Homo sapiens: one gene and its partners. The protein of the gene in region 1 purifies or fractionates together with the protein of each later gene. This does not show direct contact. Each region holds a gene or a part of one and is shown in the gene's direction. Other genes may lie near its edges.

Region 1 (7,026 bases):
TTTTGTTCTTTTTTTTTTAAACTAACCCCCTAATCTTGTGTCCTACTGCTCTCCCATCACTATATCCTGGCATTCTGGGCCTCTTCATTGGTTCCCCTCTGCCTAGAATGCTCCTTCGCCAAGATAGGTGCATGGATGACTTTGTACTTCTTTCAGCAGCTGCTCAAATGTCATCTCTTTCAAGAACCTCTCCCCAACCCAACCACCCTATTTAAAATAGCATGTATGCATGTGTATACACACACACACACCTGTCCCTTTTAATCTCCATATCCTACATTAGTTTTCTTCATAGCACTTAGCACAATCTGATATAAAACATATTAATTTATTTGCTTTTTGTATGTCTACCCTCATTAGAATATAACCTTCATGAAGGGAGTAACCTTGTTTTCTTTATTTCTTTGACTCTGGCACTTAAAATAATGCTGAGCACATGGGAGGCTTTCAGTGGTACTTAGTAAATGAATGATACTGCATTACTGAGGTGAATGTACTGTCTTCAGATTAGGAATAGCTGTAATATCAGTTCCAATCAACTCTTGCTATCAACACATATTAGGTAATGAGTTTTTCTCACATGTAAGGCACTACATGGGGGGGCGCGGTGGCTCACGCCTGTAATCCCAGCACTTTGGGAGGCTGAGGTGGGCAGATCACGAGGTCAGGAGATCGAGACCATCCTGGCTAACACAGTAAAACCCCATCTCTACTAAAAATACAAAAAATTAGCCGGGTGTGGTGGCGGGCACCTGTAGTCCCAGCTACTCGGGAGGCTGAGGCAGGAGAATCGCGTGAACCCGGCAGGCGGAGCTTGCAGTGAGCTGAGATCGCGCCACTGCACTCCAGCCTGGGCGACAGAGCGAGACTCCGTCTCAAAAAAAAAAAAAAAAGTGGAAATATCCCTAGTGGAAATAATCCGTCTGTTTTACATATTTACCGGCTATTTCAAAGCTTTTGTTCATTCAGATGAGAAAAATGTCTTCAGTTGTAGCAGAGCTGTTTATTTGCTTTTCCTTGTAGCAATTTGCTGGGTCTGTCAGCCATTACCCTGGATAGTTGCTGGCAGCCCGCCCGCTAGTATCGGAATTCATTATAATTAGCAGAAGAGATTGTCTGCAGCACACTCTGATATTATGGCAGCAAAAGGATTTAGTAAAAGCAAGTCTGGGTCCATCCTGTGAGATAAGAAAGTAACCTGCTGCTTTTCGGGCAACAAGGAGTCAGAAGCCAGGGGCACCCGGCCTCTTTAACATAGACAGAAAGACTACATTGGAGCACAAATGGAAAGGTCCAGAAAGAAGCAGTTCTCTTATTCTTACTGGGTTCTAGGTTGGGATCACTAATATGAATTACAAGTAAAACCTTGAAGCATTTTAAATCCACCTCTGAAGGTAGCAAGTATCTATTTGAGAAAAGAAATAAAGGTGCTTCCCTTGTAAAGAAGCACTTTAATATTTGCTTTTATGTATTTATGCTTCAAACAAGACCAAAATATTGATAGTAATTTTTCCTATGTTTGGAAACCTGACCTAGATTAGCCCAAATTAGTACAATTACTCCTTGGTATAATTACCAGATTATACTTTGTTGTTGATTAACCCCTCCACTTACATGTCCATTTGAAAAATGTTTTAGCAATTTAATATAGCCTCTCACATGAAGATACTTTTAGGTATTCCATTAGGCTTTTCAAAGGAGCAGTTATTATTTTAGCTTGTCCTGTTTTTTTTTTCTACACTATTAGTGCTATTGATTTCCTTCCTATTTTTAAGATTATTTCAGAAATTGTAGTGTGTAATTTCTGTAATCCCAGCACTTTGGGAGGCTGAGGCAGGAGGATCACTTGAGCCCAAGAGTTCGATACTAGCTTGGGCAACATAGGGAGACCTCATCTCTACAAATAATAAAATTATTTTTTTTTTTAAATAGAAAAATTAGCCGGGCATGGTGGCACATGCCTGTGGTTCTTAGCTACTTGGGAGGCTGAGGTAGGAGGATTGCTTGAGCCCGGAGATCAAGGCTTCAGAGAGCCATGATTGTACCACTGCATTCCAGACTGGGCGACAGAGTGAGATGCTGTCTCAGAAAAGAAGAAAAAGGTTAAAAAAGAAAAGAAAAAAAAAAGAAATTATGTGGTTGGTTACTTTCTAATTATTTTAATTTTCAAATTTTTTGTAAGTAAATGTAGTGGGCATAAGAGGTTTACTCTTTTTTCTGTACTTTTACTGTTCACATCGATTTTAAGAAAGATCCATGTATGTATAAAGGAATGCCAATTGTTTTTTCTGCTTGTTTTCCTTATATATCTGTTCTGACTCATTAATTGTATTATTCAAATCTATAGGTTCTGTTTTTCTGTTTTTAAAAATTATATAAAGAAATTATAAATTCCATTTTCCATGTGTATAAGCAAAGTAGTCTGCAATGAAGTTGACCCTCCCTGTGTGCCCCTCCCCACATCGTCTTTTTCCCAGCAACAGTCATTGCTGTCAGTCTGTTGTGTCCTCTCAGGCCTCCTTAGAGCTATCTTTATTTATATGTATAAACATCCAAAGGAGTGGTGATTGTTTTCTGTTCTGATTTTTGCTCTAATGATATTCAGTTTCCAACTCATTCTTTTTATGCATGTTTTTATTCAGGACATAGTAAGTTTATTAGAAATACAAATGCAGAAGCATTTTATTTTCACTGTCATACCTCTCTGTAGTCTACGTTGTTCATCTTCATACTTTTTTGCTGTTAAATCTTGTCTACCAATTACATTCTGGGTTTGATTCAGTACCTGGCTTTTCTTTTTGTAAGGATCTTTAGCTTAAATTGTTAAAATGATTTATTGATGTCTGTTTGTAGGATGCCAAAGAAGACCATGAAAGAACACATCAAATGGTCTTACTGAGAAAGCTTTGTCTGCCAATGTTGTGTTTTCTGCTTCATACGATATTGCACAGTACTGGTCAGTATCAGGAATGCCTACAGTTAGCAGATATGGTATCCTCTGAGCGCCACAAACTGTACCTGGTAAGTTCTAGAGCCTTGTAGTTTTAAATTTTAATGATTTGATATGCTCTGTAGTAATATTAATTTTGTGAAGATGTGTTTACATTTGTAATTGCTCTTGGATTTTCTTAAAGTAATAGTCCAGTTTTAATGTTTTAATGTTTGTACTTTTTTCCCAAAATGTGTGTATATTTGTAAGCAGTTAGAAATATATAGACTGACTCTGAGAATTCACCTTGAAATTCCTGAACCACTCTAATTTACTAGGCTCTGGCTACATAAATCTTAAAGAGGCATTTCTTCTTATATGAAGCTAATCAGATCGATTAGGTAACTAAGTTCATACTTGTCTACTTGTCTTTGTTCTCATTCTTATTTCTCTTTTTAAAAATCAGGTATTTTCTAAGGAAGAGCTAAGGAAGTTGCTGCAGAAGCTCAGAGAGTCCTCTCTAATGCTCCTAGACCAGGGACTTGACCCATTAGGGTATGAAATTCAGTTATAGTTTAATCTTTGTAATCTCACTAATTTTCATGATAAATGAAGTTTTTAATAAAATATACTTGTTATTAGTAATTTTTTCTTTTGCATTACCATGTAAAATTTAGACATTTGAATTTTGTACTTTTCAGAATATTATCGTGACACTTTCAACATGTAGGGATATCAGCGTTTCTCTGTGTGCTTGTTAATAAAACTATATAAAAATTAAAATTTTCTGTTTTTACAAATTCCAGGGTTGTCTCTTTTTCATGTAATAAGAAAATTAAATTTTCTGTTCTAGTTTTTTCTGTAATCATAAGCATTCTGATATTTTAAAATCATAAAGATGATGGAAAGTAGATTTATTTTTAAGCCAGGTACGTAATTTTTTATTTATCATAAAATTTAGTATTTTTGAATATTAAAATTAAGAAGATGACTATAACAAGAATTTTTCTAACATAACATGCTATTATTATTTTAGTTATTTTGAAGACATTTCTAGTTTAACTTTCATTTAGCAAACTTCCTATCAAAATAAGAGCATATAAAGACTTAGCGTAGTACCTGGCACACAGTAAGCACTGAATATATTGGAGATTACAGATCCCGCTCTTCTAATAGGGGAAATACCATAAGTACATTTAAAAGGTGTCATTTAAAAATACAAGTAGTGGCTGGGTGCAGTGGCTCACGTCTGTAACCCCAGCACTTCGGGAGGCCGAGGCAGGTGGATCACCTGTCGTCAGGAGTTTGAGACCAGCCTGGCCAACATGGTGAAACCCTGTCTCTACTAAAAAAATACAAAAATTAGCCGGGCATGGTGGCAGGTGCCTGTAATCCCAGCTACTCAGGGGAGGCTGAGGCATGAGAATCTCTTGAACCTGGAAGGCAGAGGTTGCAGTGAGCCGAGATCACGCCACTGCACTCCAGCCTTGGGGACAGAGCGAGACACTGTCTCCAAAAAAAGAAAGAATTACAAGTAGTCTGAGCAGGAAGAACCTCTCTCCAGCTGAAAAGACTCTCAGGAAGTAGTATTGGTTTGGGGTTTGAGTAATGCACTGAATTTGCAAAGGCAAAGAGTGACACAAGAAGGATGAGGCTCTATAGATTAAGAAATCAGTATGAGCAAGAAATGATAAATGCTGGGCATTATTATGAACCAACAAATACACCAAATAGGCTAGAGTGTAGGGCTTATAAACAGGAGACAACTAAAAGAATGTGATTCTAATAGAAAACAGTAATTCCCCAAACTTGCTAATCATCTAAGGAATTTCTTGAATATGTATTTATAGATGCCACCCCTAGAGACAGCTGGCTTGGGAAGCCTGAGATGGGATCATAGAATTTGATCAGTTCTATATTATGTGCTTTTTTTGTTTTATTTCTCTAAAGAATTCATCTTGTCTTCCTGTTTTCTTTATTCTTACTAATATGCAAATGATTTTTACAGCTCATGCAGTCCTGTAATCATGATTATTGCTATGCTACTTTGCAAAAAATAAAAACAAAAAATTCATACCAAAACAAATACAGACTAGATTTGGGGTGGGGAGGGGAAATAAGTGAGTCTTAAAAGTAGTTTTGTTACTTGCAACAAACTGTATATATAGAAACTTTGTACAACCCAGGGTGACTATTTCCAAAGACTGTTACCTATTTGTTGAACAACAGTGGGAAAACTACTTAGCCTAAATGAGGAGGAGGAATATTGTATGCTTCCATCGTAACCGTATGTGGGTAAATGGACAAGGTCTGTCATCTATTTAGGAACTTGTTTTGCATGTCCCCCACTCTGTATTTGTCTTTTGTTGTGCCTTGTTTTTTGAATGTCCTTTAAAAAACACAGCACAGAAACCCACTAAGGTTGTGGAATTACAAAATTCCTTCAACCTTAGACTCTTAATTAGGATGCCCTCAAATGGACTTGTTTTTAATTTTTATTTATTTATTTATTTTTGAGACATGGTCTTGCTCTGTCTCCCAGGCCGGAGTGCAGTGGCATGATATCTCACTGCAAACCTCCGCCTCCTGGGTTCAAGCGATTCTCCTGCCTCAGCCTCCCTAGTAGCTGGGATTACAGGCGCCTGCCACCACGCCTGGCTAATTTTTGTATTTTTAGTAGAGACGGGGTTTTGCCATGTTGGCCAGGCTGGTCTCAAACTCTTGACCTCAAGTGATCCACTCGCCTCGATCTCTCAAAGTGCTGGGATTACAGGCATAAGCCACTGCACCCAGCCAATTGGACTCCTTTGAGTCCTTAGGGAGTCAATGTGTGTGTTGCTGCTTATTTAAATACAGTTCAGTTGGAGCCCCAAGAGTGCCAATGTGCTCCTCACAATTCCCAAATGCCTCTCTTCCTGAACACCAGAAGTGGTGGGCACCTGAGTGGGAAATTTCAGGCAACTTAATTTAGTTCCTCAGTGCCTACTCTTGAAGAACTGGGTTTTCATTCTAGAGAGGAAACTCAGGGAAGGGCGTGTTGCCTATCACAGGTTCGCATACTAAGTTTTAAAAACTTTTCTTGGTGTGACTTATGCCAAGGAATTATGAAGACTTTTTCCTTGAGCATTGCATGAAGGCTACAAAGTTGGAACAGGCATGTCCTGGGTGTGAAAGTTTTAATTTCCCTACCTCATTTATTTATTTAATTTAGAGATGGGGGTCTCACTATGTTGCCCATCCCGGCTTCCAACTCCTGGGCTCAAGCAATCCTCCCACGTCAGTCTCTCAAATAGCTGGGACTACAGGCCCACGCCACCATGCCCTACTTCCTCATTTATTTTAAATTTTTTGTACCACAGTCTCTCTTTTTAATTTTATGACTGCTGAATTAATCCTAGACTCTGTCTTAAAACTAAGAATTGATGTATTGGCAGGAACAGCTGGACATTCAAGATGTTTTTGTGATTCCTTTTTTAAAAATCTCCTTTTGTACCTGTAATATCTACAATATATAATCTTTCTTTATCGACTTAAGGAGGAAGGAGAAAGGAAGAACCTGACTTCTGTGTGAAGGACCTTACTGTCGATCAAGACTGTTACTCAAAGTTCTATCTCTTAGTCATTGCACCTGACCTGATCCAAAACATATATATATATTTGTATGCACCCCTAGAGACAGCTGTATATATATACGGTTTTGCCAGGTTGTACGTTTTTTTCTCGAGTTGTAAGTGAACACAGTAGCACTCGTTTACATTGTCAAGGGGACATCTTTAGAGAACACATTTTCTCACTGTTGAGCTAATAATGCTTTGTGAATGTATGATCTAAGGAGAAACCCTTGTAGTTATACCCGATGATGCTGTCTGTTGGAAAGTAAATTTTGAATGTCTTTTTCCAAAAATAAAAAATAAAAACATGCTTTCAATAAGTTCTTTCCCCCCTCTGGCGAGGGCTACTAAATTTGCTCAGCATTTAATACGTAAAATTGGCTAACAGTGTCTGCACAGCCAGAGAGAAGTTGTCTAGCAAATCGGGTCAATGACACACAGGAAACAAACATCAAGAAAGGGGTCCTAGATTGGTCCAGTCAGGTA
Region 2 (7,026 bases), about 33 Mb from region 1:
CAAATTATAATGAGCACGGTAATTTGGAAGTGTCCAATTTTCAAAGATTTAAAATAACTATCACTAAAGTGATAGTTATTATAAATGTTATTTCCTCCTTTACTGAGAAGGCAATTCTGTTTTTGTTTTGTTTTGTTTTGAGACGGAGTCTCGCTCTGTCATCCAGGCTGGAGTGCAGTGGTGCGATCTCTGCTCACTGCAACCTCTGCCTCCCGAGGTCAAGCAATTATCCTGCCTCAGCCTCCTGAGTAGCTCGAATTACAGGCACGTGCCACCATGCCCAGCTAACTTTTTTGTATCTTTAGTAGAGACGGGGTTTCACCATGTTGGTCAGGCTGGTCTTGAACTGACCTCGTGATCCGCCCGCCTCAGCCTCCCAAAGTACTGGGATTACAGGCGTGAGCCACCATGCCCAGCGGCAATTCTGTATCTTACAGTATTCTGACATCAAAAATGCAATTTGGCATTTTATAGCACAATGAATATATAAAGCTTTACAAATTGGAATATAGTCATATTTAAGAGGAAGTGTGAATTGAAAGTTTCAGTTTGTTGCTGTCTGAGTAGAATATGACAGCTCCTAGCCTATTTCGTACTGTCTGTTTGGGTGGGAGTAGAAATTAATAGCTTTTAGACTAAATATGACCCTAGCCTGACTTACATGGACATGGTTTAGGATCATAAAAAGTCATATGATTAAGACAATGTTACGTACTTGAAAAAGACTGAGGAAAAACCATTTCTCTAATGCAAGCCACCAATGTACAAAAGAGTAAAGCAGCCTCCTACAGGTAAAACTAATTTTTACTTCATTACTTTTAAAATTAATAACAACATAGGATTGTATTCGCAAACACTGAAAAATGTTTATCTCATTTATGATTAAGAAATGTTGAGGGAGAAAGTCAGTGGAGAACAAATTAGGAAAAGAGAGGCAAAGATGAGAGAGGGAGAAGTTGGGAGAAAGAAGGAAAATGACTAACATGAGAAAAAAGAACTAGTATAAACATTTGTGTTCTGTTATAGTTTATGGTCACATGTATTGTCTCAGTTACCCTCATACCTGTGAGATTAGCAATGTAGGTCTCGTGCCCAAATTACTAAGGAAAAAATTAGATTTTTATTAATTTGGACAATAGTAAACACAAATTATATTCTGCATCAGACATTGGAAATACAATTAAGTAAGTCCATTTCAAAATAAATTATTGCTTTTCTGTGGAGTTATTTTTTATCTAGCTAAACACTGTTAAACATTACTATTCTGTTGTCCTAGAACCTTCAAGTTCCATTGCACCCAGTTTCATGCCTCTTGTCTTGAGAGAAAACTAAGTAAAGGTAAATTAAGTGGAAAGATTTTCACATTCCTGACAGAAAGATAATCCTTATTTTAAGGCTGTTTAGAAAACGTTGTAGATATAGTGAATTTGAATTTCAATAAAGCATTTTTCAGAATCTCATGTTGTCCCTTTGATTATGATGGACATATGAGCTTCTGAATGATAGTACTGTTAACTGGTGTCGTGTATTTGTCAAATTTTCATTAAGTGCATACTGGGTGCCAAGACATGAAAAAAGCAAGGACCATATCCTTAAGGAAATATTTACATATAAAGCAGTGCAATAAGAAAACTGCTATAAAAACCTTTGTTAAAGGGCAGAGGAGCATGAACATATATGCTTGCCTAAATCAATGTTCTCATCCAAGTTCTACTAGAGGCCTCAATTCACTAATGAAGACCCCTTGAATAGACTTAGAAATCTGGTATGTATTTTACACTTTTTAAAGTGTACACATATCAAATAGAACTAGCCACATTTCACGTGCTTCATAAGGTCCTGTGTGGCTAGTGGCCACCATATCAGACAGCACAGTTCTCTCTGCATCTTCCTCTGTAAATCGACAGTAATCTTTAATATAATAATAATACTCTGTAGTTCTCAGCAGTATATTATGATTCAGAGAAGATAATGTATTTTAATACAAATTTCAGGGTAGTATCTAAATGTTTAAAACTGTGAAAGAGGTATTAGACTCAATGGTAAATGGATTTTATGTTATTTGTCATCTCTATTTGAATGGACAGAGTTGTTGCTTATAATGCTTTCAGGCTGAGGCTGAATCTGCTGCTTAGTGTGTCTTCACCTAGAGGAGATCAGCTATGGCCAGATATTTGTCATCATTAAGTTAGACTGATTTGGTGTGGTTCCAGAGATGGAACGTGGAATAATGAGTAGAATTTACATGGAAACAGATTTTGGCTTAACGTTAAGAACTCTTCTAATAATTAGAGCTATCCCCCAATTGAATAAACTTCCCAAAGAAATAGCTAGTTCCCTGTCACTGGAAGTGTTCAGAGAGGGGTTGTGTAAACTCTTTTTTTCAGATGCTCTCCTAGGGATTCAAGCATTGGGGGGAAAGAATTGAACTAGAGAAACTTCACAGTCTTGACTAACTGAAATTTGTATTTGGCCTTAAATGGGTGTGGTGGGAGGGCCTGCCAGTTTCAAACCCTTATAATAGCCCTTCCATCAACCTGGCTTTGCCCCAACCTCAAATATGCCGAAACCTTGTATAATCATTTGTATTATAGCAAGTTTTCCAAAGTATCTTAATTTCCTGCCTATACAATTCTGCTTATACCCCAAACTAAATCCAAAATAGCATTTGTCTCTGCCTATACCACACACACACACGGGCCTTTTAGTTGGCTCAGTGGCAAACAGTGCTGCCAGGAAAACAGGTTTCACTGGTAAAACAAAAAGCCCAGGCTGTACAGTCCCTGAGATTTCTTTATCCCCATGACCACCCAGTAATTCCATATGTGATTTGGGTAACAAATTAAAGGACTTGATTGTCAACAATATTGTTACAGTAGCAAGATGATGTGTATTTACATGCAAAAACTTCATTTTTAGGAGACTGATTTGTCAAGTTTGGAAAAATAGATGTAATCCAAACTGTGAAGTCAGCTATGATTAGGCTCCTAAACTTATTTTAAAATTGTTTAGTGGCTGCTGTCTTGGCATATCTGGCTGTTAGCTATACAACTATTATACACACAAATTACGAAGTAGTAAAATTTGACAGTGTTTTTCTTTCCTTGATAAGTGTATTTCTTTCATTTGTGGAAAAACTTTTTGCTGTTAACTCTTAAGTTCACCTGAAATTTGAAGTTATTTTCAAAGGGTATCTGAATTATGCAGAGAAAGATGTGTAGTATATTTGTGAAATGACTTTACTGGGATCCCATAGGCTATCCTGGAAAAATCAGTATATCTACTTGGATTTCATTCGAGTATACATTATAAAACTTTGCATTTAGATTCTGGGTGAATGGAATGCTTAGATCAGGCCTTCAAGTAATTCCTATCAATATAGACATACGTATTTCATTAAATATCAAGTTTCACCTGCTGGATTTTTTCCCTGATACTTTATAATACCATACACTTTTATAAAGAAAACTGTAGTTAGCACAGAAGATTCCTTGGACAAATTTGTCGCGAAAATTTGGCCTTCTTTAGTCTCAAACCCAGTTCAGGTATTGATTTAAATAACAGAAGGATGATTTACTTATTTTTAAAATTGCAAAATTTTTTTATCATTTTCTTTTTTACCTTTCCTATGGTGCTGAGCAGTATTTTAATGCTTATAAAAAATGTGTTATCCATAAAGGCATAAAGAGTAATAAGATGGATCCCTGTATACCTGCTGCTTAGTTTAAGAAAAGGAACATTAGCAATTCTTTTGAAGCCCCCTAAGTATCCTTCCCTTACTCATGGTAGGTATTTTGCATGGCAGGATTTTCTTTTTGTTTGTCTGTTTTTTCCTGCTTTCCCCTTAATCGGGCCCTGGATCTATGCAGAAATCTCTGATCTGGCATCCTTCCTTGTGCAGGCACTAGGATTTGTCTCTTCTCTCTTGCAAACTGAAGCTTTAAATCATTGCATGTAGGCAGATACCCTTATAACAGCTGCATACCTTGGTAGTCGTTTGCTTGTCTGTATTTGAATTTTTGCAATGTTGTAATGGGAGAACTTTTCAGGTTATTGTCTCCATTGCCAGCGACAGATGGCTTGACTTTTAAAGTTGATTTTTTTTCTCACCTTCCCGTGAGGATAAACTGAAATCATTTTAGTAGGGCTGAACTGGATAAATAAGCCAACTTTATTAAGCATTTATTCCCAGAATCAAATATCTAAAACTAAATTAGCCAGATTATTTATTACATATTCACTATTCATAAACAATAATAGTTCAGATGAATTATTTGTAGCATCTTACACACATATAATGCCACATGTAACACTACATGAAAATCATTGACACTGATTATAAAGACTTTGAGGTCTTTATAAGGTCCCAAAGTATTTTCCATGTAGTGAGAATGTACAGTGTATTTTTTTAATATTGTCAGTAGATAATCCGGTTCTGGTAATTCATTTACCTAGAATATCTTGATTCTTTAGAGCATTCCATTTTCTTTGTTTTCTTTTTTTATAACGTAGACACAGGTCTCACTGTGTTGCCCAGTCTGGTCTCAGACTCCAGAGCTCAAGCAATCCTTCCACCTCAGCCCCGCAAAGTGTTGGGATTATAGACGTGAGCCAACACGCCTGACCAAGCAGTCCATTTTCATTGAACTTATTATGAAATGCCTCCTAAGATAAAGTAGAACATGTTTACCATTTGTTTCTAGTTGCCTTAGAGAGTTATTTTGTGAGGCTTAGACAACTTTGGATTTTTTTTTAATTCAATGAACTAGTTAAATCTTAATATGTAATTTGCTTTTGAACTTTTCAAAAGCATAAGCATAACCTCCTGATAAATTCATTATAATGAAATACAGAATATTATATTGTTTGTTCTCATTACTTATTAAAACATTTACTGTGTATGCTTAGGAAGAAGAAGCAGACGTTGAAGGCATTCAGTATAAAACACTTCGAACATTTCACCATGGAGTCAGGGTTGATGGCATAGCTTGGAGCCCAGAGACTAGACTTGATTCATTGCCTCCAGTAATCAAGTAAGTTTAACAGTACCAAATGCATTCCTTACTAATGTACTTTGATTGTGTTACATGATTGGAAGTCTGATCATAGATACTTTTTTCTCAATTTCCATTTTCCACAATCCAAGATATTAGATATTTTGATATTTGCTACTACTTAATAATTTAGGCTTATCATCTGAATTTGTGATTTAAATATACAGCCATGACTATGATGCCTTGACCATGTGTTTGAGCCAAACTACAAAACCTTTTACGTGAGATTCATCTGAATCAAGGTCTTTACAGATTGTTCACTGAATTTACAACTTTATTGAAAGTATAACTTAAAATAACTAAATTTGGTTGAGACATTAATGAGCTTTCCTTCCCCACCCATAGGCCAAGATCACATTTTTTTGTCCAACAGTATATAAATCTGTAAGTTCTGGTCCTGGACTTCAGTTTTTGTGAAAGTGTTTAAAAGGAATGATGGTTTTCTGAGAAAAAAATCCTAGCAATGCCTGCTGAAGCCCTCTTTACAGGGGCAAGAATATGTTAGGTTATTTAAGATCTGTTACAAAACACTAGCCTTGCCTTCTACAAATGTCAAATCTAAAAGATGTGTCTTCTTTTAGTAGACAGTACTTAGGAACTAAAAGTTATCAACTATTAAGCTAACTTCGTTTTTTTTAAATTAAGGGATAATTTAGATACTCTGAAATTCTCAGCTCTTAAGGGTATAGTTTGATCAGTTTTGACAAATACGTATATTTGTACAACCCACACCCTATTCATGCACTGTTTCTGTCACCCAAGAAAGTTTCGTCATACTTCTTCCCAGTTAATCATTGTACCCCACTCCCTGCAGAAGCAACCATTGATCTGATTTCTATTACCAGAAATCAGTTTTGCCTATTCTAGAACTTCATATAAGTGGGATCATACAGAATGTCTTTTGTGTCTGGCTTGTTTTTGCAATTTTTCCACATTGTTATGTATACCAGTGCTTTTTAAGTAGTACTCCATTACAGTGTATCAATAGACCATAGTCTGTTTATTCATTCTTCTGTAAATAGGTACCAATACAGTTTCTAGGCTTTAGTTATTATTTTTTGCTGAATACTGCTTTGGGTGGTTATATGATTTAATTTAGGAGTAGAATTGCTGAGTCACAGGGTAGATGTATGTTTAACATTTTAAGAAAATGCCAGTTTCTAAAGTGGTTCTACCATTTTGTCTTTTCCCCAATAATCTAAGGGTGGTCTTCCTACTCTCCAACACTCATTCATTCATTTTGAGACAAGGTCTGGCTCTATTGCCCAGGCTGGAGTACAGTGGCACCATCTCCACTCACTGCAATCTCTGCTTCCCAGGCTCAAGCCGTCTTCCCACCTCAGCCTCCTCCTGAGTAGCTGGGACTATAGGCGCCCATCATCATGCCTGGCTAATTTTGGTATTTTTTGTAGGGACAGGGATTTGCCTGTTGCCCAGGCTGGCCTCAAACTCCTGAGCTCAGGCAATCCATGTGCCTTGGCCTCCCAAAGTGCTGGGATGACAGCATGAGCCACCATACCTGGCCTATTCTCCAATATTTGCTATTGTCAATCTTTCTTTTTTTTTTTTTTATTTTTTTGGTACATGGTCTCACTCTATCTCCCAGGCTGACAGCCAGACCCATAATCACAGCTTACTGCAGCCTCAACCTCCCTTGGCTCAGCCTCAACCCTCCCTCTCACCTCCGCCTCCCAAGTAGCTGGAACTACAGGCATGCACCACCACTCCCGGCTAATTTTTTGTATTTTTTGCAGTGATGGGGTTTCGCCATGTTGCCCAGGCTGGTCTCGAGCACCCAGGCTCGAGCAATTCACCTACCTTGACCTCCCAAAGTGTTAGGATTACAGGCATGAGCCACTGTGCCCAGCCTGTCTTTTTAATTTTAGCCATTCTGGTTGATGCCACAATGACATTTCCATGATGAGTGATAATGCTGACGCTTTTTTGGTATATTTGTTTCTTCTATTAGAAA
Region 3 (7,227 bases), on another chromosome or scaffold:
TGTCTTATTATGTGGTGGGATGAGTCCCTTCACTCTTCTTTTACAAAATTTCCTAGTTATTCTCTCACATCTATTCTTCCACATAAACTTTAAATTGTGCCCAGTCCTCCACCCCCTGTCCCATTCCCACCCCCAAATTCTGGGCTCTGTCATTCCCTGTGCCATCATCTTCCCCCCATTGTAATTACTGTCCACTCAGGGCTGTGAAATAGACTATGTTCTGTAAAGAGGGACAAAAAGGGCATCCTGATCTTGAGAGAAGCCTGCTGTTCCTCCCATCATTTCACCTGCCCCCTAAGCCCAGGAGTTGTCATGAGAGGTCACCAGGCCCCCACTCAATCTCAGCTTGGGAACCAAAGTCACCCACCTTGGTTGTGTTGGGGTGGACCCGCCATCTGTCCCTGGTCCAGACGAGAAAGAGGAGTCTCTCCTAGGCCTGGAGCTGGGAAAGAATGTGTGGCCCAGTTGTCTGCACTTCTAATTCTCATCATGGAGAAACCTTTATTCCTATCTCCCTTTCCTGAACTGGTTTTTTGTTGTTTTTGTTTCATTTTGTTTTGGGGGGATAGTTTCTTGCTCTTTAATTTGGAGTCTCCAGTACCTTTGGGATGCAGGCAGTTCTTGCCTGGGCCTTCTCGGAACCCTCACTCCCCTAGCCCACTCTTGCGCTACCTGCAGGAGGCTGCCAACCTGGTGCATTCTGACAAGCCTCCCACCCAAATCTCTCTCCTGCCATTGTGTCCAAAATCCCACCATTAGAGGCTCTTGTAGGGAAGAGCGTTTCTTGAAGGCTTTTAGGCCTTCCAGAGCCAGGAGGGAAGTCAGACAATAGCAGGAAGTCCCCAGGCCTTTTCAAAGTTCCAAACCAAGCTCTCCTGATTTTAATGTAGAGATCATACCAACCCAGGTGGGGGAGGAGGGTCCCCAGCCCCAGGCAGCAGCCATCACCCCCTCCACTGAAAACAATATTGGAGGCTGCTTTGGGACTGCCCTTCTCAGCCCCCTAAGTCTGTTTTGTAATGCCTGTGGTGCTCTCCCTCCTGGACCTTTCCTCTCGGGGGTCACCACACTTTGCTAACTCTTGTGTGCACATATTTTATAATAGAGTAGCGAGGGAATGGTGCCGCCTCCAGCTTCCGTAAGCTGCCCGGGCTCTGGGGGGCTCTGGGACAATCGGGGCTGGGAAGTGACTGTGCTCTTATTGTACACTCTTTATTTCTCTGTATCTTTGGCTTGTGCTCTTTGTAATTAATGGGATTTGTCTGCCTTTTCAACACTATACTGAGCAATAACAATAAATGCACACGTGGAAATGCAGACACGGTACACATCACAAGGCCTTTTTCTGAAGGACAGCTGGGTCCCCGCCCTTCGTGGAGTTGAACTCAGGGGGAAACTGAGTCCCTGGGAGGGAAATGCACTTTGCCCAAGGGCCCACAGCTCAGCGGGCAGTCTCTCTCCTTCCACTAGATCACACCTTTTGAACACCCACCATTTGAGGGAGACAGGCTCACCCTGCCATGAGCCATTAACCTATGAGGAATGGTTGACCATCTCATAGAAGAAGACTGGGGAACGGGGCCTCAGGACGAAGCGGAGGAGGTTTGGGGGCAAGGGGTGGGGGGGCAAAAATCAGGGAAAGTTGGCCTGATTTGGGGTCTGGATTAACCAGAGGGAGGAGATGCGGAATACAGACACTGGATCTAGGTGGCACCCCCCTACTGGGGAGAGGGGTAAGGCAGAGGGAAGCCTGGCACCTGAGGAGTCTGGACTTCACAAACCTCTGCTGAACATTGGCAGAGAAAGAGAATATGCCCAGACCAACAAGTAATCCCTAAGGTTGGCCCAAGGGTTGAGAGTTACACACACACTCACACACTCACACAGCTCTTCTTAGGTTGAACTGATCCCCAAATCAAGCGCCATAGGCCCATCTGACTTCCATACGCAGTTTCATATCCAAGGGTTCATTTAATCCCAATATCAACCTTCAGAGGAGGTATTATTATAATTCTCACTCAAAAGAGCAGGAGACAGCATCTCAAAGAGGTGAAGAGCATGCCCACCTGGTAAGCAGGAGATCCAGCACTGATACCTAGCAGTCTTGATGCCAGCATCTGTACTCTAAACTGCCATATTACAGCGCCTTATGGGCCAAATACCTTACAGCAAATACCTTAATGAATAAGATACAGTTCTGTTGCTTGTCACAAATCCCCAATCTCTTCAACATCAGTGTCTACACAAGGAAATTCTTTTAATCACAATTATGCCTGATGCATTATATTTACATCTAATATGCCCTTGTCCTCATTTTCCACTCAAAGAAAGTGAGGCTCAGAGAAAAGTGACTTGGCCTTATCACCTAGAAAGTCAGTGGTGCAGCTATAGAGCCAAGGCCAGAGCCTGTTCCTTGAAGAACAGGAGATCTGGCAGGACGCAGCGGCTCACACCTGTAATCCCAGCACTTTGAGAGGCCGAGGAGAGTAGATCACCAGAGGTCAGGAGTTTGAGACCAGCCTGGCCAACATGGTGAAACCCCATCTCTACTAAAACTACAAAAATTAGCCAGGCATGGTGGCACATGCCTGTAATCCCAGCTACTCAGGAGGCTGAGGCAGGAGAATTGCTTGAACCCGGGAGGTAGAGGTTGCAGTGAGCCAAGATCATACCACTGGACTCCAGCCTGGGCAACAGAGCTAGAGTCCATCTCCAAAAAAAAAAAAACAAAAAAAACAACAGGAGATCCAAGAGATCCCCTGAAACCTGCCTTTGTTCCCTGCTCTAACCTAACCACCACCCCCTCACACCCCTGCAACAATTTCTCCACTAGAGGGCAATAAAAAATCTTGAAAGCTGCAGTGGGGTAGAAGAGTTGCCCAGAGGCCTGGCCCTTAATTCTAACACCCTACTCCCCTGGCCTCCCCTCCAAAGCTCCTTGACAGTTTGGGTCTATCACATTCTCTGAGCCTTAACATCTTCCTTCAAGCAGTGACCATCTCCAGCTAGGGTCCTTACTCCCAGTTTCAGCAGAGGAAACTGAAGGACTGTGACTTGCCCAAGGGGAGCCAAGGCCTCCCCCAGCTCATCTGCCTCCTTAATGTCACAAGGGGCCCAGGGCTAGACCATATGTGGCTGAGGCGGGGAGCCCAGGCTCTGTCCTCCAGTGTGGCATTCTCACTGCGCTTGTGGGGAGCCTTCAGCTGCCCTACCTTGTGAAGCCAGAGACCTGGGGTTGGGGACCCTGAGGATTAGGTCTGGGGCTCTAGCTGCAGGAGCCTGGCTGAGATCCTTCATTGCCTAGGGGGGTCTCCTTGATGGGACTTACTCAGGACCCCAGGGGATCGGTTTGGAAGGGGCAGTCCTATATAGGGGTTAGGGATGGCAGGGCCAGAGGTCCCAGCCTCTGGCGAGGGGCATTCCCTGGCCTCCTCTGCCCTGGTCCCAGTCCTTGGGTACTGAGAGGGAGACTACAACAAGGAAGCACTAGGACAGTCTACTTACTCCTAAGATGTCACTCATCCTACAACATTCATCATAAGACCAGTCGCACCCAGAGCCGTAGTGAGGCGGGTGAAGCTGCAGATAGATAGATGATAGATAGATAGATAGATAGATAGATAGATAGATAGATAGATAGATAGATTTTTTTCTTTTTTACAAGAGTGTCTCTCTGTTGCCCAGGCTGGAGTGCAATGGTGCAGTCACGGCTCACTGTAACCTCCACCTCCCGGGTTCCAGCGATTCTCCTGCCTCAGCCTGTAGCTGGGACTACAGGCGCGCGCCACTATGCCCGGCTAATTTTTGTATTTTTGGTAGAGACGGGGTTTCACCATGTTGGCCAGGCTGGTCTCGAACTCCTGACCTCAGGTGATCCACCCCCCAGCTCAGCCTCCCAAAGTTCTGGGATTACAGGCATGAGCCACCGCGCCCGGCCGATAGTTATATTAATCCTTTCTTTCATTTATGGATCTCAGGAAAAGGGCAGACTTGGTCGGGAGAGTAGACCCACCAGAGCTTCAGATTCCAAAGCCCTCCGGGTCAGGGTAACTGCGGCAACCAGAGCCCCAGCCCTCTGGTCTCGCACGTCACTGGAGGATAGGGGCTGGGCCACGGGAGGGCGGGGCGCGCCCTCTGGAAGGCGCGGAACTGCTGTGCGAGCCGAGCGCGTTGCTGCCCGGAGGCTCCTACGCCACGGCCCGTCGGGCCCGGCGCCGGAAGTGAGCTGTTCCGAGGCGCCGCCGGGAGCTGCCACGTCCGAGACCTGGAGCAGCCACCGCCGCAATCATGGTGAGTGTTGGTACTGAGGAGGCCTAGCAGGGTGAAGGCCACGGTCGCGGCCTTCACGGGTTCCTCGGCCGTCCTGAGTCCCAAATCCCAAGCTGGAGCCGTTCAGCTCCCCTCCACCGCTTAGAGATTTGGGGGGCTCTGGCCCCGTCCTTGCGGACCATTCCGAGGGGAGTCCAGAGGTGAGGCCGAGGAACCTCCCTGACTTTGCGGGGCGCGCCGCTCCTGCGTCTCCTGCCAGTCTCCCTTCCTTCTTTTCGGTCAACAATTGAAAACAAAACGAGGAACAGCAGAGGAGCTACTGTATACCGAGCCCTCAGCATTGTTCGTAATCTCCGCCTGCTAACAGCCTTGTGAAGAAGGTGCTATTCTTCTCAACACTTTACAGATGAGGACACTTGAGGTTCGGAGACGTGGAGCCTCTTGCACAGCTGCTTAAGTGGTAGTAGAGCCGAGATTTGAACCCTCCTAACCATTCCTTTCTGCCGCCTACTGCAGCTCCCAGCAGAGATGATTGAACTGTTGCTCGGGGTAGGGCCCCCAGGTAGGATGGGCACCTCGGGAAACGTAAAGATGGCCTGAACGACCCTCCGAAGGCAGGGGCTCAGGGTTTTTTAAGTCTCTGTGGCATCTGCAGTGTACATTCACTCCACACTTACTCCTTGAGTGAATGAATGACTGAAGGAGAACTAAAGAATGGAAGTATCTGGGCTGAGCCTGGAATATCTAGTACATGCATTCTTTTAGAAACATGGGTGTGTCTCAGCAGCAGGTTTGAGGGAACCTGCAGGAACCTAGAAATCAGAACACTGTGTTCTTGTTCTGCAGAGGGTTAGGTGTAAATCACTCACCTCTGGCTCTTCCACTGCAGGTTAGAGTTGAGGCTTTTATGCTCTGACATTCAGCTCATCCTAAATGAATTTTTAACTCATTATCTGATCTCAAAGAGGTGAATTATTTTGAGTGCAGGTGTTAACAGGGACCAGATAATACCAGGTCCCTGGGAAGAAGTACTCTAAGAAGTTCTCTCTCTCTCTCTCTCTCTCCCCACCCTCCCTCTCTCCCCACTCCCTCTCCCTCCCCCCTTCCTCTCCCTCTCCCTTTCTCTCTCTCCCCCTCCCTCTCTTCTCTCTCTCTCTCCCCGCTCCCTCTTCCTCCCCCCTTCCTCTCCCTCTCCCTTTCTCTCCCGCCCTTCCTCCTTCCTTCCGTCCTTTTCTCTCCCCCTCCCTCTTTCCTCCCCCCCCCCCCCCCCCGCCTTCTCTCTCTCTCTCTCTCTCTCTCTCTCTCTCTCATTCAGAAGTGTGGTTCATCAACCCTGACTGGTGGGTGAGAGTGGTTAGAATTAAATGCTGATTATTTCTAAGGTCCTTTGGTAACCTGGTTGAAACTACCTCTCAGTAAACTTTCTTCGTGAACCTACTTAACCGCAGCTTTACAGAACTCAGTGTAACAACTGCTTTACATTCTAGACAGGCAGCCTGGTGGAGTGAAGTTTTGTGGACTCAGCATTAGAAGGTTAGGGGATGGGGCTCTTTTCCCAGGTCTGCCTTGAACTAGCTCTGTGACTTTGGCAAGTGCTTTCTCTTCTCTGGGCTTCTTCATTTCCTTAGTCTGTCGCAGGTCTCTGATTGACTGTGCCCTTGGTACCCTGCCCTCCCCGCCTTCCTGTGCACTTTGTAACCTATACAGCTCGGCACATGGAGGAAACTCCTTATTGTCCTTACTTGCCTTTGCAGACTTCGGGGACCTGGTTTTTAGAGAGTCTAGAATCTGATGAGAGAACCTGTGCTTACTTGGTGTGTACCTCTTGAACTGCTTTGCAGCCATCCTCTTCCACTGTCTGCCTTTCTGAAATCACAAGTCAAACTTTATACCTACAGGGCTTGTGCTGGAAAAGATGAAATGGGGAAAATGGTAAGAAATGTCTGTTCCACACTGAAACTTCTTTTAAGTCCTCTTTTCTATCCCAAGAATTTAAGAGAAGAGTGGTTGAGCAAAGAAAAAAAATAACAGCTTTTGTTCATTTACTTATTCATTCAGCAAATAGTCGCTGAGTTCCTTCTATTTGCAAAGCACTGTGCTGGATGATTTGAGGGGATTTGAAACTGCAGATGGCTCAGACCATGGCTCCAAGGAGCTCACCTTCTAGTGGGGAGAAGAAACAGCATAAAGTGTTGTATGTGTTCCTTGCTGAAGATATGCAAGAGAGTCCAGCCATTTGAGGGTCTGAGAATCTTCAAGAAAGGTGATGGATGGCCCTTTTTGAGCTGGACCTCAAAGAATAGATAGGAGGGAGATGACCATGACACCATGTTCCAGCCCTACAAACTGTTCAACTCTGGATCCCACTACGTGACGGACCAGGGAGCAGCCTCAGGAAACACTCGAATCAAGTCTCCCAGTCTGAAGTAATAACCCCGTTATGCATAAACTGCCTGGAACATCAGAGGCTCTGTCATCCAGGAAAGGAACACCAGCTGTAGCTCCCTTGGGGTCTCTCCTCAACCTTAAGGGTAGCCAGGACTGCTTGCCGTTTCCCCACACACATCAGGCTCTCTCAGACCTCTTTGTCTCTACTCGTGTATTCCCTCTGCTTGGCTGCTTGGACTGGTATTTTCCCCTGTGCCACCTGCAAATTCCTACCCATCATCTAGGGCTCAATTCGTGTCTACCACCCCAGCCCCTCAGGCTCCTACAGGACACACAAACCACCATTAAATAATTTATCTTGCGACACTAGCATTATTCGCGAGCTTCTCAAGGGCAAAAAGTTCCTCTTATTTGTGTCTGTATATCCAGTTCCTAGCACAGTGCTTGGCAGAAAGAAGGTACTTAGAATGAATGCTTACTGAATGAATGAATGAATGAGTGAGTGAACAAACAAATGCAGTCAAGAACTTGAGATGGTTGTATTCTAACTGCCATGAGTTAATTTACCAG
Region 4 (7,026 bases), on another chromosome or scaffold:
TGCTTTACCATTTGTTACATGTACAGTTGAGCCTGTTGTTTGTAGATTCTGTATTTTTTGAATTTGTCTACTCTGAAATTTACTTGTACCCCAAAAGTCACACTGGTTTTGCAGTCATTTGTGCATGTGTGAGGAGTGGTGAAAAAGTTTGAGTCTCAGGACAGACGTTTCCCATTGAGGTGAAACCAGGCGATACTCTATTTTGGCTCATACTGTAAGCAGGTGTTTTTCATGATTTATTTAGTGCAATGATTATTTGTTCTTTCTGTTGGTGATTTTGCTGTTTAAAATGGCCTCCAAGCGTAGTGACTGTAACTAATTGTCTCTGTTACCTAATAGAGCTCAGCTTCCTGAATCCCTTGGTGCTTGGCCCAGTGCTTGACACATTCAAGGTTCTCAATGTAAATTTTTTGAGACGGAGTCTTGCTTTGTCTCCCAGGCTGGAGTGCAGTGGCGTGATGTCAGCTCACTGCGACCTCCGCCTCTGGGGTTCAAACGATTGTCTTGCCTCAGCCTCCCTAGTAGCTGGGACTATAGGCATGCGGCACCATGCCTGGCTAATTTTTGTATTTTTAGTAGAGACGGGGTTTCACCACGTTGTCTAGGCTGGTCTCGAACTCCTGACCTCAGGTGATCCGTTTGCCTTGGCCTCCCAAAGTGCTGGGATTACAGGCATGAGCCATCGCACCCAGCCTCTCAATAAATACTTAATTGAATGAATGAATGTTTACTTGCTGATTGTGTTCTTTTGTTAACTATATGTTCACCGCTTTCCTTGTACACTGATTCAGTCTTATAGTTTTTGTATCAATTTGTAGGAATTTTTGTATAAAATATCTGCCTTTTATTTTCTTATAGGTCTGGGATAAAAGTGAAAGTGGTGATTGGCATTGTACTGCTAGCTGGAAGGTTAGTATTTATTTTTACATTTATTAAAAATACAGAAATATTTACTGTTTATTTTATAGTTATCTATGAATTGTTTTGAGAAAATAACATTTATACAGTAGTTCTTTTCCTGGGAAGACATTTTACTGTTTTTCGCTATTAAAGTAACAACTGTGTTTCTCAGAATTTGAGAGTAAGAAAATCTGTAATTCTGTAGCATTCTAACATAATTATCTTAGTAATTCAGAATATTCCTTTTGCCTTTACATATTTTAATTGTTGTGATGTTTCATACATAGTTTTCTCTTAAAAAAAAAAAACAAAACCTTTACTCAAGTAGAAATTTTCTTTTTTTTTTTTTTTTGAGACGGAGAGTCTTGCTCTCTTGCCCAGGTGGGAGTGCAGTGGCGTGATCTTGGCTCACTGCAACCTCCGCCTGTTGGGTTCAAGTGATTCTTCTGCCTCAGCCTCCCAAGTAGCTGGGACTGTAGGCGTGCACCACGATGCCCGGCTAATTTTTGTGTTTTTAGCAGAGATGGGGTTTCGCCATGTTGGCCAGGCTGGTCTCAAACTCCTGACCTCAGGTGATCCTCCCTCGGCCTCCCAAAGTGCTGGGTTTATAGGCATGAGCCACTGTGCCCGGCCAAGTAGAAATTTTCATACCTTAAAAGTCATCCATTTTAAATGTACAGTTCAGTGAGTTTTAGTAAACTTACATAGTTGTGTAGTCATCACTGTAATCCAGTTTTAGAACTTTTCTCTCAAACTCAGAAATTCCTTTGTATCCTATTCCCACTCCAAGCCCCAGGCAACCACTGATCCATTTTCTGTCTCCATAGGTTTCTTCTCTCCTCTGCCCTCCCTCTCCCCTCCCCTCCCACCCTCTCTTCTCTTCTTTTCTTTTTTTTTTTTTTTGAGCTGGCGTCTTGCTCTGTCGCCCAGGCTGGAGTGCAGTGGTGCGATGTTGGCTCGTTGCAACCTCTGCCTCCTGGGTTCAAGCGATTCTCCTGCCTCAGCCTCCTGAGTAGCTGGGATTACAGGCGCATGCCACCACACCCGGCTAATTTTTGTAGTTTTGGTAGAGACAGGGTTTCACTATGTTGACCAGGCTGGTCTCGAACTCCTGACCTCAAGTGATCCGCCCGCCTTGGCCTTCCAAAGTGCTGGGATTACAGGCTTGAGCCACCATGCCTGGCCTGGTTTATCCTTTCTAGAAATTTCATAGAAATGGAATTTTGAAATACATAGTCCTTTGTGTCTGGCCACTTTCCCTTTGCATGTTTTGAGGTTCATCCATATTGTGTCATGTGTCAATTTGTTCCTTTGATACTGAGTAGTCCGTTGTATGTATATTGCCACGTTTTGTTTGTCTGTTCACCAGTTGACGGACATTTGAGTTGTTGTTTTTGGCTGTTATGAGTAATGTTAAGAACGTGCCATGTAAGTCTGTGTAGACATATATTTTCATTTCTTTTGGATAGATGCGTAGGAGTGGAATTGATGGGCTATATGCACTTAGCTTTCTAAGAAACTGCGAAACTCTTCCAAAGTGGCTGTGCCCACCAGCCATGTGTGAGGTTCCAGTTTCTCTACATCCTCACCTACACTCGATAATATCTGTCTTTTTTATTATAGCCATTTTAGTAGTTGAGAAGTGACCACAAAAATCATTGGATTTTGATTTGTATTTCCTTAATACCTCATGTTGATTATTTTTTCATATGCTTATTTACCATTCATGTATCTTCTTTTGTGAAAGGTCTATCCAAGGTCCCCCCCCCTTTTAAGGTGAGGTTAACTTATAAAATTAATAATTTCAGAGTAAACAATTAATTGGCATTTACTTCATTTACAGTGTTGTGTAACTACCACCTTTTTCTAGTTCTAAAACATTTTTATTATTCCAAAAGGAAACCCCATCTCTTGCTTTTAAGCCTAATATATTTCATATGTACTTTTCTATATCTTTAAAGGCTTTTTATTAACAGCCAATAAATATACCATTTTGCTTAACTAGTGGATATTTCAGTTTCCATTTTATTGTGATGAGCATCTTTGTGCAAACCTTATTCTTTAGATTGCATTTTACTGTAAATCTAATAAAACTTATCTGCCTTAGTGTGCATTTTTAATTTTATAGCCCTGTATAAGTAAGAATTAAAGATGATACAGAAAAGACTGGACAAAACAAGGTTAAAAAAAAAGGGTGCAAAATGTACCTTTAGTTGGTGACATTGTTACCATGTAGAAGTTATTGGTTAAACTATTTTTATGTTGTTGAATGTAAAAAATGTTAGCTATACAGTGTGAAACACATTTTCTGAATGTTATTTGTTATTATACAGTATTTTCCCTGAGAAGCACCTAGCAAATTCTTTTGATGGTGAAATTCTTTAAGACCTTTGTATCCCTTCTCCAGCCACCTCCCCTCCCACCCCTTGGCCAACAGGAGGGGTGTAAGGATTTGGGCTTCCCCATATTTGCTCTTCCTACAATAGTCTGTTATCGATAGACTGTATTGTCAGTTAAAATCATTTAAGCATTCTATGGCTATAATCTCTATATATTGTTAGACTTTTGAAGCAAATAATTTTTTTTTGGAGACAAGTTCTTGCTCTGTCACCCAGGCTGGAGTGCAGTGGCACAATCTTGGCTTACTGCAGCCTCAACCTTCCAGGCTGAAGTGATCCTCCCACCTCAGCCTCCCAAGCAGCTGGGACCGTAAGTGCATACCACCACACCTGACTAATTTTTTGTATTTTTTGTAGTGATGGCATTTTGCCATATTGCCCAGACTGGTCTTGAACCCCTGGGCTCAAGCAGTCTGCCCACCTCAGCCCCCTAAAGGGCTGAGAAGACAGGCGTGAGCCACTATGCCTGGTTGAATCAAATGAAAAAAAAGTATTTTTTTGATTGAGCTATAATTTACATATCATAATGTGCACCCATTTAAAGTGTACAATTTAGTGATTTTAAGTATATTCATTTAATTGGCAACCACCACCACTTCTAATTTCAGAACATTGTTTACCACCTCTAAAGGAAACCCTGTGCTCATTTAGCAGTCACTTCTTGTTTACTCTGCTCCCAGCCGCTGGTAACCACTAATCTACTTTCTGTCTGTATGGATTTTGGAGCAAATAAATCTAATGTTATTTATTTTATTAGGTGGGTATTTTCTGTAGAAAGAATTTGCAAGTAAAATGGTGGACTTACAGAATCTTTGTTTCAAAGGTTGGTTACGCTAAACTCTGAAGCAACTCTCCAACTATCAGCACTGGAAGTAGTCAAGTTTATCTGGCTAGATTTTTCTTTTATTAGTAAAATGTCAGAAGAACTGGACTTCAGAAGCATTACAATCCTAAATATAGAATGTCTTCTAAAGGTTAAAACATTCTGGAATTTAACTTTTTATTTACATGTTATGTTGATCAGTTTTCTTCTCTCATAGAAGTAAAACTATATTCTGTTTCCTGATGTAAAACCAGTGTTTATGAAATATGAATAAGTATTTAGGAAAAAAGAAGCCCTGGGATAATGAGTATCTGTTCTTTTCTTTTTTTTTTTTGATTCCCCAGACACATAGTGGATCTGTATGGCGTGTGACATGGGCCCATCCTGAATTTGGGCAGGTTTTGGCTTCCTGTTCTTTTGACCGAACAGCTGCTGTATGGGAAGAAATAGTAGGAGAATCAAATGATAAACTGCGAGGACAGAGCCACTGGGTGAGACATTTATTAGTATTCTGGGGACCGGGAAGACATGAGCAGCCAAGGAGCATTCATCCGAAGGCTACCTCAGATAATTGGTAAAATATCACCACTCCCCTCTAGTTTTACCAGTTCTAAAGTTCTTTCTTCCATGTTTTTTTCTTCCTTTTTTATTTCATTTTAACTTGGGTCTGAAGCAATACTTAGGAGCATCACTGCATTGTTTATAACTTTTATGATGAATCCAGAATATTTGCATTGTATTTGATTTTACCTATTAGTATATTTTATGATAGTAATATATGATTTTAAAGTATTCTGGCTCACTGCAGTCTCAAACTCCTGGCCCCACCTCAGCCTCCTGAGTTGCTGAGATTATAGGCATGAGCCACTGTGCCTAACTCTAAAATTCTTTTTTTTTTTTAACTTTAAACTCTTAAGGGTTAATAAAATTCTTTTTTTTTTTTTTAGACGGAGTCTCACTGTGTCACCCAGGCTGGAGTGCAGTGGCACAATCTTGGCTCACTGCAAGCTCCGCCTCCCGGGTTCACGCCATTCTCCTACCTCAGCCTCCTGAGTAGCTGGGACTACAGGCGCCCGCCACCACGCCCATCTAATTTTTTGCATTTTTAGTAGAGACGGGGTTTCACTGTGCTAGCCAGGATGGTCTCGATCTCCTGACCTCGTGATCTGCCTGTCGGCCTCCCAAAGTGCTGGGATTACAGGCGTGAGCCACCACGCCTGGCCAAGGGTTAATAAAATTCTTTAAATTTTATTTAAATTTAAATAAATTTAATGGGCCAAATTCAGGATGGGCCCATGTCACACGCCATACAGATCCACTGTGTGTCTGGGGAATCAAAAAAAAAAAAAGAAAAGAACAGATACTCATTATCCCAGGGCTTCTTTTTTCCTAAATACTTATTCATATTTCATAAACACTGGTTTTACATCAGGAAACAGAATATAGTTTTACTTCTATGAGAGAAGAAAACTGATCAACATAACATGTAAATAAAAAGTTAAATTCCAGAATGTTTTAACCTTTAGAAGACATTCTATATTTAGGATTGTAATGCTTCTGAAGTCCAGTTCTTCTGACATTTTACTAATAAAAGAAAAATCTAGCCAGATAAACTTGACTACTTCCAGTGCTGATAGTTGGAGAGTTGCTTCAGAGTTTAGCGTAACCAACCTTTGAAACAAAGATTCTGTAAGTCCACCATTTTACTTGCAAATTCTTTCTACAGAAAATACCCACCTAATAAAATAAATAACATGGCTAACATGGTGAAACCCTGTCTCTACTAAAAATACAAAAAATTAGCCCGGCATGGTGGTGGGTGCCTGTAAGTCCCAGCTACTCTGGAGGCTGAGGCAGGAGAATGGTGTGAACCCGGGAGGCGGAGCTTGCAGTGAGCCGAGATCACGCCACTGCACTCCAGCCTGGGCGACGGAGCGAGACTTGTCTCAAAAAAAAAAAAAATTCTATAAAAATTGTTTCTTTTGTTTTGTGGTTACTTTTGTTTTCTTAGGAAATATACTGTCCTCGGCCGGGTGCGGTGGCTCACGCCTATAATCCCAGCACTTTAGGAGGCCAAAATGGACAGATCACCTGAGGTCAGGAGTTTGAGACCAGCCTGACCAACATGGAGAAACTCCCCCTCTACTAAAAATACAAAAATTAGCTGAGCATGGTGGCACATGCCTGTAATCCCAGCTACTCAGGAGGCTGAGGCAGGAGAATCGCTTGAACCCGGGAGGCGGAGGTTGTGATGAGCAGAGATCGTGCCATTGCACTCCAGCCTGGGGAACAAGAGCGAGACTTCGTCTCAAAAAAAAAAAAATACACTCTCCTTTATCTACATCTGCTTTTATCGCTGTCTTTGCCTTATTGGATGTTTGAATTTGGGCAAGAACATAATATAATCTGTGTGCTGTTGAAGTTCCTCATCTATAAAGTGAAAACATTGAACTAGATTATATTTAAGACTCTTTCCAGCATTTTCATATGAAGGTATTATCATCTGCATGCTTTTTTTCCCCCTTTATGATTTGTTTTTTGTAATAGATAATCATGCACATGGTGTAAAATTCAAAAGAAACAAAAGGAAGTGTGTAGTGGGAGTGTCCTGCTATTACCCCTCACCTGCCCTCCCTAATGGCATGATACTACGTTAGAGCCAGTCACAGCTCATTGCAGTCTCAACCTCCTGGGCTCAAGTGATCCTCCCACCTTAGCCCCACAAGTAGCTGGGATCACAGGCATGCACCACAGGCTGATTTTTTTATTTTGTAGAGATGGGGTTTCACCATGTTGCCCAGGCTGGTCTTGAACTCCTGGACTGAAGCAATCCTCTCACCTCGGCCTCCCAAAGTGCTGTGATTATAGGCGTGAGCCACTACGAGGGCCATGATGCAATTTTTT

What was found.
Region 2: the proteins of NUP107 (region 1) and NUP37 purify together in Homo sapiens (affinity purification with mass spectrometry; 7 studies listed by BioGRID and IntAct, with this or other methods). This does not show direct contact.
Region 3: the proteins of NUP107 (region 1) and SEC13 purify together in Homo sapiens (affinity purification with mass spectrometry; 10 studies listed by BioGRID and IntAct, with this or other methods). This does not show direct contact.
Region 4: the proteins of NUP107 (region 1) and SEH1L purify together in Homo sapiens (affinity purification with mass spectrometry; 5 studies listed by BioGRID and IntAct, with this or other methods). This does not show direct contact.

Annotation. Positions count from the first base shown.
Region 1 is NC_000012.12:68,738,960-68,745,985, forward strand, and holds the end of NUP107 (nuclear pore complex protein Nup107), read left to right. Parts: intron 1-2,853; coding exon 2,854-3,021; intron 3,022-3,395; coding exon 3,396-3,503; 3' UTR 3,504-6,850; downstream 6,851-7,026. UniProt on the Homo sapiens protein: Plays a role in the nuclear pore complex (NPC) assembly and/or maintenance. Required for the assembly of peripheral proteins into the NPC. May anchor NUP62 to the NPC. Involved in nephrogenesis.
Region 2 is NC_000012.12:102,110,115-102,117,140, reverse strand, and holds part of NUP37 (nucleoporin Nup37), read left to right. Parts: intron 1-4,908; coding exon 4,909-5,033; intron 5,034-7,026. UniProt on the Homo sapiens protein: Component of the Nup107-160 subcomplex of the nuclear pore complex (NPC). The Nup107-160 subcomplex is required for the assembly of a functional NPC.
Region 3 is NC_000003.12:10,318,113-10,325,339, reverse strand, and holds the start of SEC13 (protein SEC13 homolog), read left to right. Parts: upstream 1-4,227; 5' UTR 4,228-4,287; coding exon 4,288-4,290; intron 4,291-4,298; exon of another isoform or gene 4,299-4,469; intron 4,470-4,675; exon of another isoform or gene 4,676-4,831; intron 4,832-6,023; exon of another isoform or gene 6,024-6,060; coding exon of another isoform or gene 6,061-6,201; intron 6,202-7,227. UniProt on the Homo sapiens protein: Functions as a component of the nuclear pore complex (NPC) and the COPII coat. At the endoplasmic reticulum, SEC13 is involved in the biogenesis of COPII-coated vesicles.
Region 4 is NC_000018.10:12,950,997-12,958,022, forward strand, and holds part of SEH1L (nucleoporin SEH1), read left to right. Parts: intron 1-858; coding exon 859-909; intron 910-4,466; coding exon 4,467-4,613; intron 4,614-7,026. UniProt on the Homo sapiens protein: Component of the Nup107-160 subcomplex of the nuclear pore complex (NPC). The Nup107-160 subcomplex is required for the assembly of a functional NPC.